2 separate regions of the Homo sapiens genome follow, and region 2 is linked to region 1. Evidence: fine-mapped expression QTL. A gene starts in region 1. The other region holds a variant in brackets. All regions are shown on one strand. Distances are between the middles of the regions. Region 1 holds the start of GRHL3 (grainyhead like transcription factor 3). Region 2 overlaps STPG1 (sperm tail PG-rich repeat containing 1).

Region 1 (5,382 bases):
GGCCGCAGCCCAGGATCCCTTGCGCCCTGCGGTAGCCCGGGGCTGCCCAGGGCTGCGGGCTCCAGGCACCCAGAGCGCTGCGACCACATGAAAGGCCCGGCGCTCAGCACCCGCCAGCCACCTCCAGCTGGTTTCTAACTACACCGCCGGGGCCTCCATGCTTCTCAGAGACCAGCCTTCGAAGTGCCGCCTTACACCCGGGGCCTGGCCACCGGGCGGGCGCGGATGGAGCTCTGGTCCACATTTGGGAGCTCACAGTTGTTCCTGCCAGGTAGGTGTTACAGACAGATGAGCAGACTGAGGGTCAGGGAGGACAAACAAATTCACCAGGATCCTGCTGTTGGTAAGTGGCAGAATTTAGAGTGACAGGCAAGTCCCACTTTTGCCACTATATCAAGGCCTGGCCAGAGTTGGCCATTCCATGAGGGCCCAAGCTGTAAGCTATGGCCAGTCCTCTTAACTTGGCACTTTTTAGGAGAATGTCGAGGCCGCAGAAGCAACAGCAGCTCAGAACTTGCAAGCCAAGCGCCGGGTGCCCTCCCCTTACCAGTAGGGGCAGCTGAGCCCCCAGGCTCTGCCACTGTAATCTCAAATGGTGGCTTGGAGTCCGCCTGCAATTACTCAGCAGGCAACTGGCTTCCCTCACCCCACCCCAAACTGAGAAGCCTCAACTGTCAGCGGATCTGACTTCAAATCCAAACCATTAGGGAGGAGAAAAGCAAGAAACCTTTCTGTTCAAGTAACCCAGCTTCAGAACACATACCCCCTAACGTGCAGTAATGAATAGATTCTGTCTGTAGCCTCCGCAGTTTTAGCCAGCAAATTTAAGTGGGATGGAGACACATGTCAAGATTTTTTTGCGCGTTCAAAGTATGGAAAAATAGCAAGAGGTTTGGGAATGCTCATTGATTGGTTAGTTCTACATGAAATGACAATGGTGTTACTGGTGTGTTCTCCACCAGCCTTAAAAGCAATCACTATTCTAAAATTGTCAAATCCTCTAACAACCCCATGAGGTGGATACTACTGTTGGCCACTATTTACAGATGAGGATTAAGGGACTTGCTCAACATCACACAGCTATAAGTGCTAGAGCTGGGACTTGAACCCAGGTGTCAGTACCAATGCTCCTGCTCTTATTCTCATTGCGGTCCAATTGTCAATACATTGTCAACCCCGGGAAATTCATTCAAAAGAAATGTGCCTGTTAACCCAAGTGATTGTGCTGTGAACATGAAGAGCTGAAGGGCTAGCTAGAACATAGAATCCGGTCTGCAGTCAGGACCTAGCACTGCTGTCTGCCCACAGATCTTCAAGTTCTTAAAAGTCTGTTGAGGAGCAGTTAGAAAAAAGATGGTACAATCCTTGCCTCTGCCCACTCACCTCTGAGGGTGGCAGGAAAAGGAGAGCCTGTGTTTAAAGGATTCTGGCTTCTCCTGCCAGCTCCCTGAACCCAATCTAAAGCAGCCCAGATCCCAGCCTCACCCTACCTTCTCTAAGGTCTGGACCCCAAGAAGGACATCATGGTGAAGATCAGCATCAGTCAGTCAGGATCTTAAATCTCAGATGTGGGCAGGAAGGCACATGCATCCTCCCAGCCAAAAGAGGTGACCTACCAAAAATCACTTCTCATCTTCCCCAGCCTTAGAACTGCCTCTGAATGAGAGGAACCACATTTTACTGAACGCATCTTCAGACCATAGCTTTATGCTAAGCATTTTACAGCATTTATCACACTTAACTCTTTCCAGAATTCTACAAAGCATTCTTGTACCCATTTTCCAGATGAGGAAAATGAAGCCCAGAAAAATTGAATGTCTTGTCTGAGATCACCCAGGGACAGAGCCTGGATTTGAACTTAGGTCAAGCCCACTACAAAGAGTACACATGCTTAACCACCACACTGTAACCTTCCCACTTGGGACTGTTCCAACCCAGCAAACAAGTCCCTTTAGAGAAACCCAACTCTCTGCCTAAGACAGCTCTTAGAACTACCTTAAAGAAGTTCCTTTTGGCAAGAAGATAGAAAGCCTCGATGGGATTGGGGTCGTCTGATTTCCAAGGCCCCTTCAGAGGATCAAAAAGTGGTGCCAGAAACCTTCACAGTTTCAGTCTTGTGTTTCCCTGCCTGGCTCGAAACTGCTCAGCAAAGAGAATGAGAAAAACTATTTTCCCAGGGAAACACTCACCTCTAGCTTGAGACTGGGGCTTGCCTTGACACGCCAAAGTAAGATCGTCAGCCCATTCATTTACCCTTACAAATTGCTCTGTGAATCCCGGTGCCGGCCTCCCCGCTCTTCCCCCTCCAGGAAACCCCATCCAGCCTCCACGCTCTGAGAGCGGCAGGTATCCACCGATGTTTACTCACTCAAGTTCATTCGACATCTTCCTGCTCCCAAGCTCCGACGATCAGCACTGAGGCTCTGCTGACCGCTTGTCTCTAATTCTTGCCTGACACAGACATTCTCTGCCCGGGAAAGTGTTTGATTTATGTTGAGGTTTGGGTGTCGAGATTTTGCTGACAGGTAGGTTCCCAGCAGCGCTGGCGCTGATTGGCTACAGGTACAGGTGCCGGCGACTGGAGGTATACCTCAACAGGTGCAGCTGTTAACTCTTAGCCCGCCGAGGAGGGCGGAGCTATGGGGGACTGGCTGGGTGGAGCTGGCCAATTCCTTCCTTGGTGAGGGGGTGGGGGGTGGAGATGAGGGAGGAGGGATGGAGAAGAAAATGTTGGAAAGAAGCAAGATAACTAGAGGAAAAGTACAGGGACAAACAGATAACTTGGCTTAAAGGAAAACTTGATTCCTGTTTCTAGTCATTGTCCCAGATACCCAGAAACATCCCCACCCCCAAATTTCTTTGCCCCCTCCTTCTGTACCACTGGGGAATTCTCAAAGGAGAGAGCAACTTTTCCCAGGTAGATCTTTGTATAAGTTCCCTTTTTTTCAGTTTCCCCTTTAAGGTAATATTTTTGAATAATCTTTTGCAGTTACTCAAGTGACTTCTTTTGGTTCTTAAAGTAACCTACCGTGGTAGATTTATTATCGCTTCCCCCTTCCTCTTCAACACATATTTTACAGATGAGGGAGGAAATGGAGGCCAGAGAGGCAAAGTGCCTTGCCCAAGGGCACAGCTAGCGAGGTCCCAGCCCAGATCCAATCTGCAGTCATCTCACTCCAAGTCTGGCTGCCCCTTGGGCTGAAGTCAGTGGCCTCAATTCAGTAGACATTCATTGAGCACCCGTTGTGTGCCAGACCCTACTCTGGGTTCTGGAGAAACTGAGGCCAGAAAAAACAGGGGTTACTGTTCTAAAGGAGTTTACAATCTGGGGGGTGTGTGTTGGTGGCAGGGGGTGGGGGAGTAAAGGAGAACAGGCTTTTATTGGGTGTGAAGGGGGTGTGGGCAAGCCACATACCTCTGGTCAGCACAGAAGGGATAGAAAAGTTGAAGGCTCCTCTGAAGCCTCAGCCAGCTGGTCATTTCACAGGCTCCAAGTGCTTCGTTCTGTATTGGGAACTTGGGAGAAATTCAATGCCTGTCAGATGAAGTAATTGTGGAGTAATTGCTGTGAGCTGTCTACTATAAAGAACAAGCTTGGTAAACCCCAGAATATCCACAAACACAAACAGGAGAATGTAAGAGCTTTTTAAAGAGCTTCTTCCAGGATTAGTTTGAAATTAAATCTAAGCCAGAGATCTTGGCATCTTTTTTTCCCTCTCTCTCTTTCTATTCTCCCCTCCCCCACCCTTCCCCTTTTGGCAAATTATCTCTTTGCTGTGTCTTCCTGGAAACCTCAACTTGGCCCACTCCTCTCTCTCTTCTCTGGGAACGGCAAGTGAGGTTTCAGCTACCCCTGCCAATTTATGGAGGTTTTTCAGGGTAAAGTCAGAATTCAAAGGAGCCCTCTTGGGGTGGGGTCAGGGCTCTGGAGAGGGGGTACTGGGTTTGAGAACTCTCAGAGATTGGTTTCTCCCTGGAGGCTGTGTTGGGGGAAGCCCAGGGGACCCTAATAAATAATAGTAAATAATTGCTAATAAAGCCACCTCCTCAGAGCAGCCCTCTTCAGTCACCCTTGTTAATAAAGTAGACATTCAATCACTCTGGATCACACTACTTTTTGTTCTCTGCAGAGCCCTTATGACTTATGATACAATGTAATATGACCTATGATATTTTTCTAATCGTTTATTGTCTTTCTCCCCTTCCTCTGGAATGTAAATTCCATAAGAGCAAAGACTTTGTGTCGCTCACTGTGGAATCTCCAGTGTCTGGCACCTAGTAGGTGCTTCATATACCACAGGCACCGGGCATTGTGCGCCTTTGCATACATTGTGTCGCCTAATCCTTACAGCAACCCTGGGAGATAGACATTTTTGATACCCCCATTTTATAGATGAGGAAACTGAGGTACAGAATACTGAAGTAAACTACTCAAGCTGCAGAGCTAGGCAGTGGTAGAGCTAGAGCTGGGATTTAATCCGAGAGCAGAGCCTGGGTGCCCAACCACTTCACAGAGCTTATTGGTGGCTGAAGGGCTATTTGGTGCCAACTGTAACTGCAAAGCTTATTGCAGTCCAAAGGATGGCACACTCCTCTGTATGTACCTGTCTGCCCACCTCATGGAAGGCTGTGGAGTTTCTGTCAACCGTGTTGCAACCCACAGGTGAAGGGCTGTGGGGTGACTCATGCTGACTGGGCTCAGGGGAGGCTGGGATTCCAGGTGGCGTGTCTGTGCTCGCTGGGGTTTTAAAAATGGGTCCTCTCCCTCTGCCTCTAGGTTTTGCCTCTTTCATCACCCGCACCCATCTTCAGAGATCAGCAGAGACCCAAATCACAGGGCAGAGGGTTTCTACGTCTCCACACACAGGAAGGCTACAGAAGTGTCCCGGATGGGATAGAAGGACCGGTGGTCTGGGCTAGGTAGGCAGGAACGCCATGAGCCAGTTTGCAAGGTCACCAGGCCCCTCAGTAGGAATTATACCTCCCAGGCAGGAGGTACAAGTGCTTTCTAGGCCTTCATCCCAACAACCCAGAGATGCCAGGCCTTTAAAGAGACACTCCCCGTGCTTTGCTGCTGCCCCCTTCCTGCTCCTGTGGGGCTGAGCAAGGCTGGCACCTACTTCCCCTTCATGGATCAGCACAGCTCTTGGTTCCTCTGCAGAGGAGATTTAAAACAGAACAGCTATTCCAAAAAAAAAAAAAAAAAACAAAGTTTAAAAAAACATAAACAGAGACCAGCCAATTACTTGTAACATAATAATTATATCCACAATAATGACAGTAAATAATGAGGGCTGCTGTTTAGTTAGCGTTTGTATTTTGCAAGCACTGTGCTAAGACTTACCTATGTGTTAGGATAGTATTGTTCTGAGACTCACAGGC
Region 2 (5,382 bases), 81 kb before region 1:
ACACATACACACAGTAGATTTTTGATGAGTGTGCCAAGATAATTCAGTGAAAAAAGGGTATTCTTTTTAGCAGATGGTGCTGGATTAATTGAATCTCCAAATGCAATAAAATGAAAATAAAATGAACCTGACCCTTACCTTAATACTGTATACACAGTTTAATTCAAAATGGATCCTAGGCCTAAATGTAAGAGCTAAAACTATAAAACTTCTAAAAGAAAATGTAGGAGAAAATATTTGTGACCTTGAGTTAGGCAAAAATTGCTTAGATCTGACAAAAGAAATCTTAAAACCTTAAAAGAAAATTTTGACAAATTTGATCAAAATTTAAAAATTTGCATTCATAAGATAGTGTTAAGAAAATAAAAAGGCAAACCTCAGCCGGGGAGCAAATATTTTCAAAACATATATGATAAAAGGCTTGTATCCAGATGTATTAACTTGTACAACTCAATAAATAACCCAATTAAATCCAATTGTTTTTGGGTTTTGTGGTTTTTTGTTTTTTTGTTTTTTTTTGTTTTTTTTTTTTGAGATAGGCTGTTGCTCTGTTGTCCATTCTGGAGTGCAGTGGTGCTGTCATGGCTCAGTGCAGCCTTGATCTCCTGGGCTTAAGCAGTTCTCCCACCTCAGCCTCCAGAGTAGCTGGGACTACAGGCTGGCTAATTTTTTATTTTTCGTAGAGATGGGGTCTCACTATGTTGCTTAGGCTAGTCTCAAACTCCTCGCTTCAAGCAATCCTCCCGCTTCAGCCTCCCAAGGTGTTGGGATTATAGGTGTGAGCCACAATGGCTGTCCCCAATTTTTTTGTTTTAAAGGTAGAAGATTTGAACACACTTCACTAAAGAAGATAAATAAGCACATGAAAATATCCAAATTAAAATGACAATGAGATACCACTATAAAATCACTAGAATGCCTAAAATTAACAAGATTGAGCAAACACATGTTGGTGAGGATGTAGAACAACTGGAACAAAGTACTGATCTATGCAACAATATGGAAGAATTTCAAAAGCATTACACTAAGTGAAAAAAGAGTGTCTATGATTGCATTTCTGTGACATTCTAGAAAGGCAACAATTGTGACAGCAGAGCAGTGGTTGGGAGGGTGCTGACTGCAAAGGGACACAGGGAGCTTCTCAGCATCATAGATAAATTAATATCTTAATTGTGGTGGTATTTAACTTGGCTGTAAACATTTGCCAAAACTTGGAATTGTACAACTAACACTGATGAATTTTATTTGTGTATACATTATGTCTCAGTAAAGCTAAATTTAAATAAAAATAGGCCAGGCATGGTGGCTCACACCTGTAATCCTAGCACTTTGGATGGCAGAGGCAGGCAGATTACCTGAGGTCAGGAGTTCGAGACCAGCCTGGCCAACATAGTGAAACCCCATCTCTGCTAAAAATACAAATTACAGATGGTGGGCGCCTGTAATCCCAGCTACTGAGGAGGCTAAGGCAGGAGAATCACTTGAACCCAGGCAGGGGCAGCGGTTGCAGTGAGCCAAGATCACACCATTACACTCCGGCCTGGGTGACAAGAGCAAAACTCCGTATCAAAAAATAAAAAATAAAAATAAAATCCAAGCCTTCAGTAGTTCTGTAAGCAACATCAACAGTGACTTCTTACGCAGTTCCTACTGCAGGCAGCACCAGCACAATGTGCTTGGGACTTTGGGTCACTGCACTTGGTAGATCTCAGCCGGCACCCACACCATTTCTCAGTTTACCCTGTAGATAGAACAGAACCCATTTGCAATAATTAACCAATGTGAAATGATCTCTACAAATGCTGTGTTTTGCTGTTTCAGGTGCTTAGGAGAACATGCAGTAGAACTTTTCATCAAACAAATGGAACACGTCACAGAATTTTGCTAACATGGACAACTCTGCACAGAAAAATGAACGCACTGGCAAACATCCCAGACGTGCCAGTGAAGTACAGAAAGGTACATGTGTCTTTGCAGGGAGGAGATAGCTCCTGACATATGCTTATTTTAGTACATAAGAGCAAATTTGGGGGGAATAGTAAGTCCTGGGTTATATCCACAGGGCCATCCTTACAGGCATACCAAATAG[G/A]TGGCTTTAGGCCCTACTGTTTCAAGTGTGACGATTGGGAAGAAACTGAGAAGAAAGGATGAGAGAAGAAGGAGGAAGTCTGTTAAAAAATAAAAAACTAATAAACAAAACCCAGACTTGTTAGTTCCATGTATCTGGTAAGAATCTCTATCCTCAAATTTAGATATGTAAGAGATCTTTTTTTATTTCCTAGAACTCAACTTGAGTTATGACTGCAAGTCCCCATTCTGCTGGGTTGTTGGAAAGGATAACTCCAGCCATTATCAGCATAAATCCTATCTCCCTCGTGATTGTTTCAAGTTCAGAACTTTCCCAATAGTTAGTGTGATCCCAGGAGGCTGGGTTGGGGTGGGGAGGAATACTCAGGTCATTGGTCAACCATCCACATTGGTGAGATCCCCAGTGTCCCAGCTCATGTGCTCCCTTTGGTTTTGCTAGTGTTCGCCAACTAGTGTTCTGGTTCGTTAGTGTGGCTTAGGAATTATTGCTGAGACAGGAAACCTCATTTTGAGATCCCCCTAGGCTCCAGCGCTTTTTCTTTCGAGGCTGTTACCACCTCCCTGGTGGGCTTCCAGAGTCGCTGCTGCTCTCAAATCCAGAGAGATCTCTCTTTCTTCCTCCTATCCTCTGATTTTGCACTCTCTTTTTCTTTAACATTTCTTTAAATTGAAGCATAAATATATATTCAGAAAAAGTGCACAAATCCTAATTGTATAGCTTAATGAATATTCACAAAGAAAACACCACCTATGGAATAACTTCTCAGACCAAGACAGAATGTCAGCAGCATCTCAAAAGCCCTTGTCCCTTCTCAGATATTATCTCCCTTCCCTGCAAAAGTAAACACTACGGTTATCCTGACTTCTCATATCATTAATAACTTTAGTTTGTTTTTGAATGTTATGTAAATGTGAATCATACAATATGAGCTCTTTTCTCTCAGGCTTATGTTTCAGAGATTTAACTTCATGTTGGTTTGTCTTATCTATGAGTAATTTGTTCATTTTATTACTCTTGTTTGAATACACCACAATTTATTTATCTATTCTACTACTGAAGGACATTTAGGTTGTTTCCAGTTTGGGGCTATTATGAATAAAAACTTCTGTAACTATTCTTGTACTTGTCTTGTGGGACACATATTTATGTATTTCATGGGTCTATACCTGAGGAGTGGAACTGCTGGGTCATAGGGTATGTTTAGGGTAAGCTTAGTTGATATTGCCAAACAGTTTTCCAAAGTAGCTGTGCCAATTTTACCTCCTTACAAGCAATGTATGTGAATTCCAGCTGCTCCAAATCCTCACCAACATTTTAAGCTCATAATAGTTTTAATTTGCATTGCCTGAGATCAATGAGATTGAGCACTTTTTCATGTTGACTGGCCTTTTGGATATTCTCTTTGGAGAAGTGACTGTTCAACTTTTTTGCCCATTTTCTTCTGCTGGGTCTTGTCTTGTCTTTTCTTTTTTTTATTTATAGGAGTTCTTTAAACCATTCTGTCCTTTTCTTATTTATAGGGATTCTTTATTCTAGAAACAAGTCATTTGTTAGCTGTAGGTAAATGTCATCCCTTATCCTGGGACTTTCCTTTTCACTCTCTTAACAATGTGCTAAGACACAGAAACTCTTGATTTTAATATAGCCCAATTTATCAGTCTCTTTATGTTTAGTGTACATGTCTATTTTATTAATACTTAAGAAATCTTTGCCCATCCCAAGATAGTTTCTTCTAGAAACTCTATTATTTTACCTTTTACATCTAGATCTACAATTCACTTGAAATTGTTTTTGATTGAGGAAGATGCCCGAGTCTGTTGTTTTCCATGTTGACCCAGCACCATTTATTGAAAGGCTGCTCATTCTCTACTACTCTGTATTGCTGTTGCTACCTTTGTCATAAATCAAGTGTCCAGGCATATGCAGCTCTGCTTCTTGATTATTTATTCTGTTCAAATATCATACTGTCCTAATTACTGTAACTTTATAATAACTCTTTAGTAGCATAAGCCCTTCAACTTTGTACTTCTTTGTTTATGCTGGCTATTCTTGACCCCAGTGCATTTCCATATAAATTTATTTTACTTTTTTATTTTTAATTTTTATGGATACATAATAGTTGTACATATTTATGGTGCACACATGATATTTTGATACAAGAATATAATGTGCGATGATCAAATCTGGGTAGCTATACAAATTTTACAATCAGCTTATTAATGTCTTAAAAAAACTCTACTCTCATTTTAATTTGGATTGCATTGATTCTAGAAATCAATTTAAGGATAATTTACATCTTTACAATAAATATTAACTTCTCTAATCCATGTATAGATCCTTTTATTTAAGTTACCTTAAATTGTTCTCAATGTTTTGGAGTTTTCTATGTAGAAGTCTTGCATATCTTCATTATATCTATTGTAGGCATTTGATTTTTATGCTGTTATAAATGGTAATTTTAAATTTTATTTTAAATTGTTTGTTGCTGCTGTACAAAAAAATTAATTGATTTTTGTATATTGACCTTGATTCTGGTGACCTCACTAAATCCAACTATTACCTCTTATAGGGTGTCCACAGATTATTTTGCAATTTCCCCATACACAATCTTGTAATCTGTGAAAATGACAACTTTATTTCTTCCTTTCTCATCCATATATTTTATGTATTTTTAATATATTTTATGTAGGCGTTTGTATTGGCTAGAGACCTTCAGTACAACGTTGAATAGAAGGATAATAGCAGTTGTACTAGTTTCACTCCCTGTCTCAAGGGAAAGCCTTTAATATTTCACAATTTGGTATCCTGTTTGCTATAGGCTTTTGTTATAGACACCTTTTATCAGATTAACAAAGTTTGCTCCTATTCCTAGTTTGCTAGAGTTTTTCTTTTAATCATCAAAGGATATTAGATCTTATGAAAAGCTTTTTCTGTATCTACTAAACAGTTACTTCACCAAAAAAAAGATATACAGAGGGAAAATAGCATATGAAGGACTGCTTAGCATCATTAGTCATTAGGGAAATGCAAATTAAAACCATAATGAGATACCATTACATACCTAATGGGATGCCTGAGATTAAAAAGACTTCCCATTGCTGATAAGAATGTGAAGTCATAGAAATTTTCATACGCTAATAGTGGGGATGTGCAAAAGTACAACGACTATGAAAAATAGTTTGACAGTTTTTTAAAAAGTTAAACATATGATCTAGTCATTCCACTCCTAGGCATTTACCCCGCAAAATGAAAGCTTATGTCCATTTAAAGACTTGTAGATAAAATGCTCATAG

Evidence for each region. PIP is the estimated chance that this variant, and not a neighbour inherited with it, causes the effect. A credible set is the group of variants that fine-mapping cannot tell apart.
Region 2: its variant is the best candidate, but not a certain one, in a credible set for the expression of GRHL3 in nasal epithelium (TOPMed, PIP 0.64).

The regions. Positions count from the first base shown.
Region 1 is chr1:24,316,555-24,321,936 of GRCh38, reverse strand. GRHL3 (grainyhead like transcription factor 3) reads right to left here and starts at 2,580. Exons shown (of 16, transcript NM_198173.3): 1 at 2,369-2,580. The coding sequence starts at 2,385. GRHL3-AS1 (GRHL3 antisense RNA 1) reads left to right here. Exons shown (of 2, transcript NR_183722.1): 1 at 1-271. RefSeq lists a silencer at 1-47.
Region 2 is chr1:24,397,896-24,403,277 of GRCh38, reverse strand. STPG1 (sperm tail PG-rich repeat containing 1) reads left to right here. Exons shown (of 9, transcript NM_001199013.2): 2 at 1,822-1,959. The coding sequence starts at 1,890. Among named protein-coding and RNA genes, the nearest start is that of STPG1, 13 kb to the left of the region's middle. The variant G/A (reference allele first, on the strand shown) is at 2,090.